Linked DNA regions of Homo sapiens. The protein of the gene in region 2 purifies or fractionates together with the protein of the main gene of each other region. This does not show direct contact. Each region holds a gene or a part of one and is shown on either strand. Other genes may lie near its edges.

Region 1 (2,998 bases), on a different chromosome or scaffold from region 2:
CAAGGCACATGGGAGTATGGTTATCTAGAGATCGAAGACTCAAAATCTTTATTGAGAACATGTCACAAAATCATACTACCTCCCTCCTGACTACACCACCATCTCCACCCAAGGTCTCTTATCATTCCCTAACCCCTCTTTCAGAGTGCTCAGTAAGAATGCTCTTCGTATTTGATGCTCCCTGCCCTCCTTCAAGCCACCTGCTTCCATACCTGCCTGTGCAGGTAGCGGTGCTCATATTGGGGAAGGGGCTTCCCATCCAACAGCAGCTGTCCCCCGGTGGGCTGGTACAGATTCTGCAGCAGGGCAGCCACTGTGCTCTTCCCAGACCCATTGGGTCCCACCAGCGCCGTCACCTCGCCAGGGCGTAGGGTGAATGTCAGCCCCTAGAGGCCAGAGAAGCACACGATAAGAGGCTACCAAGGCCTCTAACCTTGAGAGTGTCATTGCCTTGTTACATAGCATGATGTCTTACCCCAGAAGAAAAACAGGGAAATATAGAAACTCCTACCCTCCCACATGCACAGATTTCTGGGTGATGCCTCCCCAAGGAGTAGAGATAGAAGAAGCGGCAAAGACAAGGGCAGAGACCCAGCACCACTATGCCACACACTTGATGTCAGATACCACCAGGAAAGGGAAAAATCACATTCCAAATTACAAAGGAAAAGGAAAGATGGAAGACCGAAGACACAGATTTTGCTGCAGCAATTCCTTGGAACGTGAGAGCACTCTCTTCGAAACCTCTTCTCTCATTCTCTTTGGAAGCCCAAACTGGGTTCTTGAGTTTGGGGAAGATTTATGGAACAGATGATGCCTACCATTGCCTTTAAAGGGTTAGGGAGGATATATGCTTGGCAGTAAGCAGGCTGAAGGCAGGAAGAAAATTTAGGATGGCAGAATTGCAGTTGGGGCCAGTGGAATACAGGGAGTGGTAGGTTGTACCTGTAGCACTAAGACATCTGGGCGGTTTGGGTAGGCAAAGGAGACATCTTGGAACTGGACAAGGCCCTCCAAGTGTAAGGGAGTCAACAGACCACTGGGTGGGCAGCGAGGGGTGCGGTCCAGGTACTCAAATATTTTCTCTGAGGAGCCCACAGCCTTCTGTACTCTGGGGTAGATGGAGAGCAGTACCTAGAGGGAGGTAAGAATAGTGAAAGTGAGGTAGTCTGCTTGCCAGCATTATGTGAAGCAAGAAGGGTAAAGAATGGAAGGACATCACACAGATGGTGCTGGGCCAGAGGAAGGAATCACACTGGGGAGTGAAGGTGGAGGGACCTCACCTCCACAGCCTGGGTGAACTGCATCTGGTAGAGAACAAATGTGACAAGGTTCCCACTGCTTACAGCCCCACTGGTCACCAGCTGCCCACCAATGTAGAGGATTCCCACTTTCAGCAGCATACCTGAAATCTATAAAGAGACCACAAAAAAAGGGACTGAGGTAGAGAAATCTGGAGGGGACACAAAGAACCGCAGTCATTAACCTGAAGGAAATATCAAGTCCCTGTCTCCTAAGTGACATCGGCAGGCTCAATAGGCAGACAGGAGAATGAACCAGAGACCCCATGGAGTCTGACTCAATGCACATCATGCAAGTCACAGTTATCTTCACCACCATCACCACTATCACCTTGTCTGGGGAGCATTTTACTCTTCACAAAAGGCTTTCATTCATGTGATGTCAGCTAATACATGAAGAGCCTTATAAAGAAGGTTATATCACTCCATTTTTGAAAAATGAGGAAACAACCAGTCGGGCGCAGTGGCTCATGCCTGCAATTCCAGCACTTTGGGAGGCCGAAGTGGGCGGATCACAAGGTCAGGAGATTGAGACCATCCTGGCTAACACGGAGAAACCTCGTCTCTACTAAAAATACAAAAAAAAAAAAAAAATTAGCCGGGCGTGGTGGCGGGTGCCTGTAGTCCCAGCTACTCAGGAGGCTGAGGCGGGAGAACGGCGTGAACCCGGGAGGCGGAGCTTGCAGTGAGCCCAGATCGCGCCACTGCACTCCAGCCTGGGCGACAAAGCGAGACTCCAGCTCAAAAATAATAATAATAAGTAAAAATAAACAAACAAACAAACAAATAAATAAATAAAGAGGAAACAGTCTCAGAGAAGGTAAATTTGTTGTCATGATCACAAGACAAGTAAATTGCATCATCAAGCCAGGATCTTCGGATCACTGGCGTAGCTCTCTTTCCAGTGCATCACAGATGTCCCTCATCCCTGGCTTCCACTATTCCCATCACTCTCACTAACAAATCTACAAGGTACCAGCATGAAGCAGTCCCAGGTGCAAGAATTTATGGCGCCCTGCACTTCCCCTGAGAGGCAAAGGAAGGCCCTAGGACTGGAAGACACGCATCTCTCCAATCCACATGGTTGGGTGGATTTTATGTACCATACTGAAAGGAAGCCACCTAGCATCTTTAAAGAGAGGGAGGGGGCTAGGGACACTGAGTAGAGTCATTGAGCCTCAGGTTGCTAGGACGAAAATACTGAACCAACCATTTCCCAGTAAAGGAGGAGTGGGAGCAGGGTCATAGGAATGGGAATGGAGTCACGGCATCTTAAGGACAAGGGAATGGGTATTCATCTTCAGGTGCTCACACTAGTGGTCCAGGAGTTGACTGCATAGGCCACAGCCTCCTTCTGGTTGAGTGTCTTTATTTCTTGCAGCTTTTCCCTAAACTTCTGGGCTTCGCCCTCCTCGTTGGCAAAGCTTCGAACTGTAGGCATGGCCGACAGAGCCTCAATGGCCACCTGGCTGGACTTTGCCAGAGATTCCCGCACCTGCACTTCCAGCAACTGTGGATACATGGACAAGAGATGTCACACGGGTTGGCAAACCATCAGGGACACTAATACCTGAGTTACCTATTTGGAAATTAAAGGTGAGAAGAGACAGAGGAAAAGGAGAAAAGAGAAAGAGACACAGCTATGCCCCTTGGATGCTAAAGAAATACGAGGAAGAGGAAAATGACTCAGAACGGGT
Region 2 (4,140 bases):
CACCTTGGCACCTCAAAGTGCTGGGAATACAGGTGTGAGCCACCAGGCCTCGACTTTTTTTTTTTTTTTGAGACAGTCTCACTCTGTTACCCAGGCTGGAGTGCAATGGCCTGATCTTGGCTCACTGCAACCTCCAGCTCCCGGGTTCAAGTGATTCTCCTGCCTCAGCCTCCCCAGTAGCTAGGATTACAGGCATCCACCACCATGCCCAGCTAATTTTTGTATTTTTAGTAGGGACGGGATTTCGCTATGTTGGCCAGGCTGGTCTCGAACTCCTGACCTCAAGTGATCCACCCGCCTTGGCCTCCCAAAGTGCTGGGATTATAGGCGTGAGCCAGCAGGCCTGGTCTTTTTGTTTGTTTGTTTGTTTTTTGGGACAGTCTCACTGTCACCCAGACTGGAGTGCAATGGCCTGATCTTGGCTCACTGCAACCTCCACCTCCCAGGTTCAAGTGATTCTCCTGCCTCAGCCTCCCCAGTAGCTGGGACTACAGGTGTCCACCACCACACCCAGCTAATTTTTGTGTTTTTAGTAGGGACGGGATTTCGCCATGTTGGCCAGGCTGGTCTCAAACTCCTGACCTGAAGTGATCCACCCGCCTTGGCCTCCCAAAGTGCTGGGACTACAGGCGTGAGCCACCACACCCAGCCTGGCTTGAGGGATTGATTCTACCATGTCTTTTCCCTGAGCAGTGGTTCAATATTCATTCATTCTTTCTCAGTGACAGATCCTTCCCTCTCAACCTCCTCCCACGAGTGACAAGAACCAACCGTTGCTCCTCACAAGCAAGGATACCAGAGCTCGGAAACCTGGTTCTCATTCCTGAAACTGGCCGATCCCCCATGGGATGTTGAGGATATGAGCCTGCAGCGCCCGTGACCAACTGTGAGAGCCGGAATGATCAGTGCCCAAGGTCTGTTCGCTTGTCACAGTCTGGCTGTGTACCAAGAGATGTCGCAATGAGCACAGCTTTAGAGTCTAAAAGGAAACGTGTTCTGTTCTTTCTTTGTTTTGTTTTGTTATTTCAGAAGAAACAGGAATCGGTTCTGGAGCATGCCACGGCTCTTCACTGCTGGTTACAAAATTTAGAAAAATCATTCTCCCTCTTTTCCTCACTCTCAGGGTTCTCTTAAGAGTAGGGCCCCCTGCGAGCCAGTGATAGGGAGGTGGGCGGTTAACGGTGCTGCCCAGAGACACAGCGACGTTACTCCAGTGGGCTCAGCCCTGCACATGAGTGTTCAGACAGTTACAGAGGAAATGTCACAACACACTTCCTTTCCACCTAAGCCTGAGTCGCAACCGTGGTGGTGCGCTGGGAGGTGGAGTTTGCAGAATTTGCATTCGGAGACAGTCGTGCCAGCCGGTGGGCCACCCAGCGAAGCGGCCGCCTTTGCAAGGTTGCTGGACAGATGGAACTGGAAGGGCAGCCGTCTGCCGCCCACGAACACCTTCTCAAGCACTTTGAGTGACCACGGCTTGCAAGCTGGTGGCTGGCCCCCCGAGTCCCGGGCTCTGAGGCACGGCCGTCGACTTAAGCGTTGCATCCTGTTACCTGGAGACCCTCTGAGCTCTCACCTGCTACTTCTGCCGCTGCTTCTGCACAGGTGAGCCGCCGAGCTGGACTTTTATGCTTGTCCTGCACTGTCAAGGGAGAAGACAGGGTCGCTGGGAGGGTCCGTGTACGGTGAGAACATGGGGGAAGACGGTGCAAACTCCATGAGGCGTGTTCTCCTCACGCTAGAGCAGACCAGGAGTGCAAATTTCCTGGGAGGAAGACTTTGCACAGCCGCTTCGTCACTTAGGGGAGAAATGCTCAAATTTTCCAGGGCTGCAAGCCACCCTTCCTTTAATAACTCATTCCATGAACTTTCAGAGGCCGAGGTGGGCGGATCACGAGGTCAGGAGTTCGAGACCATCCTGGCTAACACGGTGAAACCCCGTCTCTACTAAAAATACAAAAATTAGCCAGGCGTGGTGGCAGGTGCCTGTAATCCCAGCACTTTGGGGGACCGAGGTGGGTGGATCATCTGAGGTCAGGAGTTCGAGACCATCCTGGCTAACACGGTGAAACCCCGTCTCTACTAAAAATACAAAAATTAGCTGGGCTTGGTGGTGGGCGCCTGCGGTCCCAGCTACTCGGGAGGCTGAGGCAGGAGAATGGCATGATCCCTGGAGGTGGAGCTTGCAGTGAGCAGAGATCACGCCACTGCACTCCAGCCTGGGCGACAGAGCGAGACTCTGTTTAGAAAAAAAAAAACAAAAAAAAACTCATTCCATGAAATGCGCCTCTCTTGAGGTTAACCTTAGAGAGGGTAAGCAGCTGCGGCTGCTGCACGTAACCCATTTACGCCTGAGATTGCAGTTTTTTCAATGTTTGCAATGAGACCTTGGCGATGACCTTGAGCCGTGGGATATAAATAACTCCCAAATGCTTAGCGTTCCAATAATGGAAGAGTAAGCATAAATTAAACGGGTTTTAAAGCCCTATGGGTGCCTGGATGAGCACGGTGGCCCCTCGTCACCCCCTCGGTGCCAGGGAGACCCCAGACCCGGGTCTCACGGCCACCTCAGACCTCATTTGTACAGGTCCGCTTAGAAACCCCAATTCCTTGGGTCTTGTCAGATCTGTCCCCTAAAAAGCTGAGAAAAGGCAGAGGGAGCTGCTCTGGGAATTTCAGGCCACACACAACAAGGCCTGCTGTGGCGCTTTAGGTCCCATTTCTATAAAGGGGAACCATGGTCACGTGGCTCTGTTCCCAAAAAGAAAAGGGTTTGTGTGTGTGTGTGTGTGTGTGTCTGTGTGTGTGTCTGTGTGTGTGTGTGTGTGTGTGGTTGTTTCTTCCCATGTTGTTATCTTTACGTAACGTGGATGAGAAGTCTGAAGCGCGAGAGCCCTAAGTGAAAACCGCTGAGGAGCTGAAGCCCGTGGGGAAGCAGGTGCACCTGACTGCGCCGTTCAATCTCTCCTTCCCGTTCCGTTCCTCCTTGCATAGCCCACTTGACTTTGGCAAGCAGCGCCAGATAGTAGCATATTTTGTGTTTACGGCGGTGACAGACGCCTGTAATCCCAGCACTTTGGGAGGCCGAGGTGGGTGGATCACTTGAGGTCAGGGGTTTGAGACCAGCCTGGCCAACATAGTGAAACCCCGTCTCTACTAAAAATACCAAAATTAGCCGAGTGTGGCGGCGGGCACCTGTCATCCCAGTTACTCGGCACGCTAAGGCAGCAGAATCACTTGAACCCAGGAGGCGGAGGTTGCGGTGAGCCAAGATCGCGCCACTGCACTCCAGCCTGGGTGACAGAGTGAGACTCTGTCTCAAAAAAAAAAAAAAAAAAAAAGGAATTATCCCACATTGGAAAAGCAGTACTTTCATTTAGGCACTGCCAGACAGGTGCCAGCGTCCTACGTGCACCAGGATGCTGCCCCTTTTCCCAAATATTGGCCTCCCCCACCCCACAAGAGGACAATTAGGTCAGAGGCTGAGAGAGGCGTGCATGGGACGTACGGGACGGTGGGCAACCCTGTGTTTGTAAAAGCACATGCTTTTCAGATGCCTTCTGCCAGGTCCCCGCCTGGCTGCACCATTCAGACTGACCAACCTTGGGGTGGGTGGGAGAGGTGAGGTCCCCTTGGAGAACCACAGAGACGCTCCCTCCCTCCAACCCTACCCACACTGCAGTTCTGAGTTTGTCCCTTAAAGTTCCAGGGAAGAAGCGATGGCTTAGGATTAACAACAGCAGGGTAGCTGTTGCCAGTGGTGCATACGTACAGCCCTGCGCTTGGAGAGGCCCTTTCCCCGGGCAGATGGCCCCCTCTCGTCTGAGTCTCTCTCCTGCGCCCTCTCCTTCAGCCCTGCCTCTCCATCAGGACCTCCTCATTGGCTGTGTCTGGGCATGGTCCCCAACCTCCCTCCCCCAGCCCCTCTTCTGTCCCTAGAGGCAGTGGGGTGGGCGGGGCAGGGTCCAGGGATCCCAGTGTCCACCTGGAACCCTGCTCTTCCTCTCTCGGGTTAGGAGATTCTGCACGGCCCCTGGGAGACACACAACACCCTGCCTACACCTGTTAAGGTACGGAAAGGGCGTGGGCGTGATGGGTGCCCCCAGGATCACCCCCAAGGACCAGACTGAGCTCAGGGGA

What was found. The genes of interacting proteins can lie anywhere in the genome.
Region 1: the proteins of P2RY8 (region 2) and TAP1 purify together in Homo sapiens (co-immunoprecipitation; 2 studies listed by BioGRID and IntAct, with this or other methods). This does not show direct contact.

Annotation. Positions count from the first base shown.
Region 1 is NC_000006.12:32,847,707-32,850,704, forward strand, and holds part of TAP1 (antigen peptide transporter 1), read right to left. Parts: intron 2,812-2,998; coding exon 2,614-2,811; intron 1,413-2,613; coding exon 1,284-1,412; intron 1,135-1,283; coding exon 946-1,134; intron 387-945; coding exon 213-386; intron 1-212. UniProt on the Homo sapiens protein: ABC transporter associated with antigen processing. In complex with TAP2 mediates unidirectional translocation of peptide antigens from cytosol to endoplasmic reticulum (ER) for loading onto MHC class I (MHCI) molecules.
Region 2 is NC_000023.11:1,534,386-1,538,525, reverse strand, and holds the start of P2RY8 (S-geranylgeranyl-glutathione receptor P2RY8), read left to right. Parts: upstream 1-1,340; 5' UTR 1,341-1,605; intron 1,606-4,140. UniProt on the Homo sapiens protein: G protein-coupled receptor for S-geranylgeranyl-glutathione (GGG), an endogenous metabolite present in lymphoid tissues.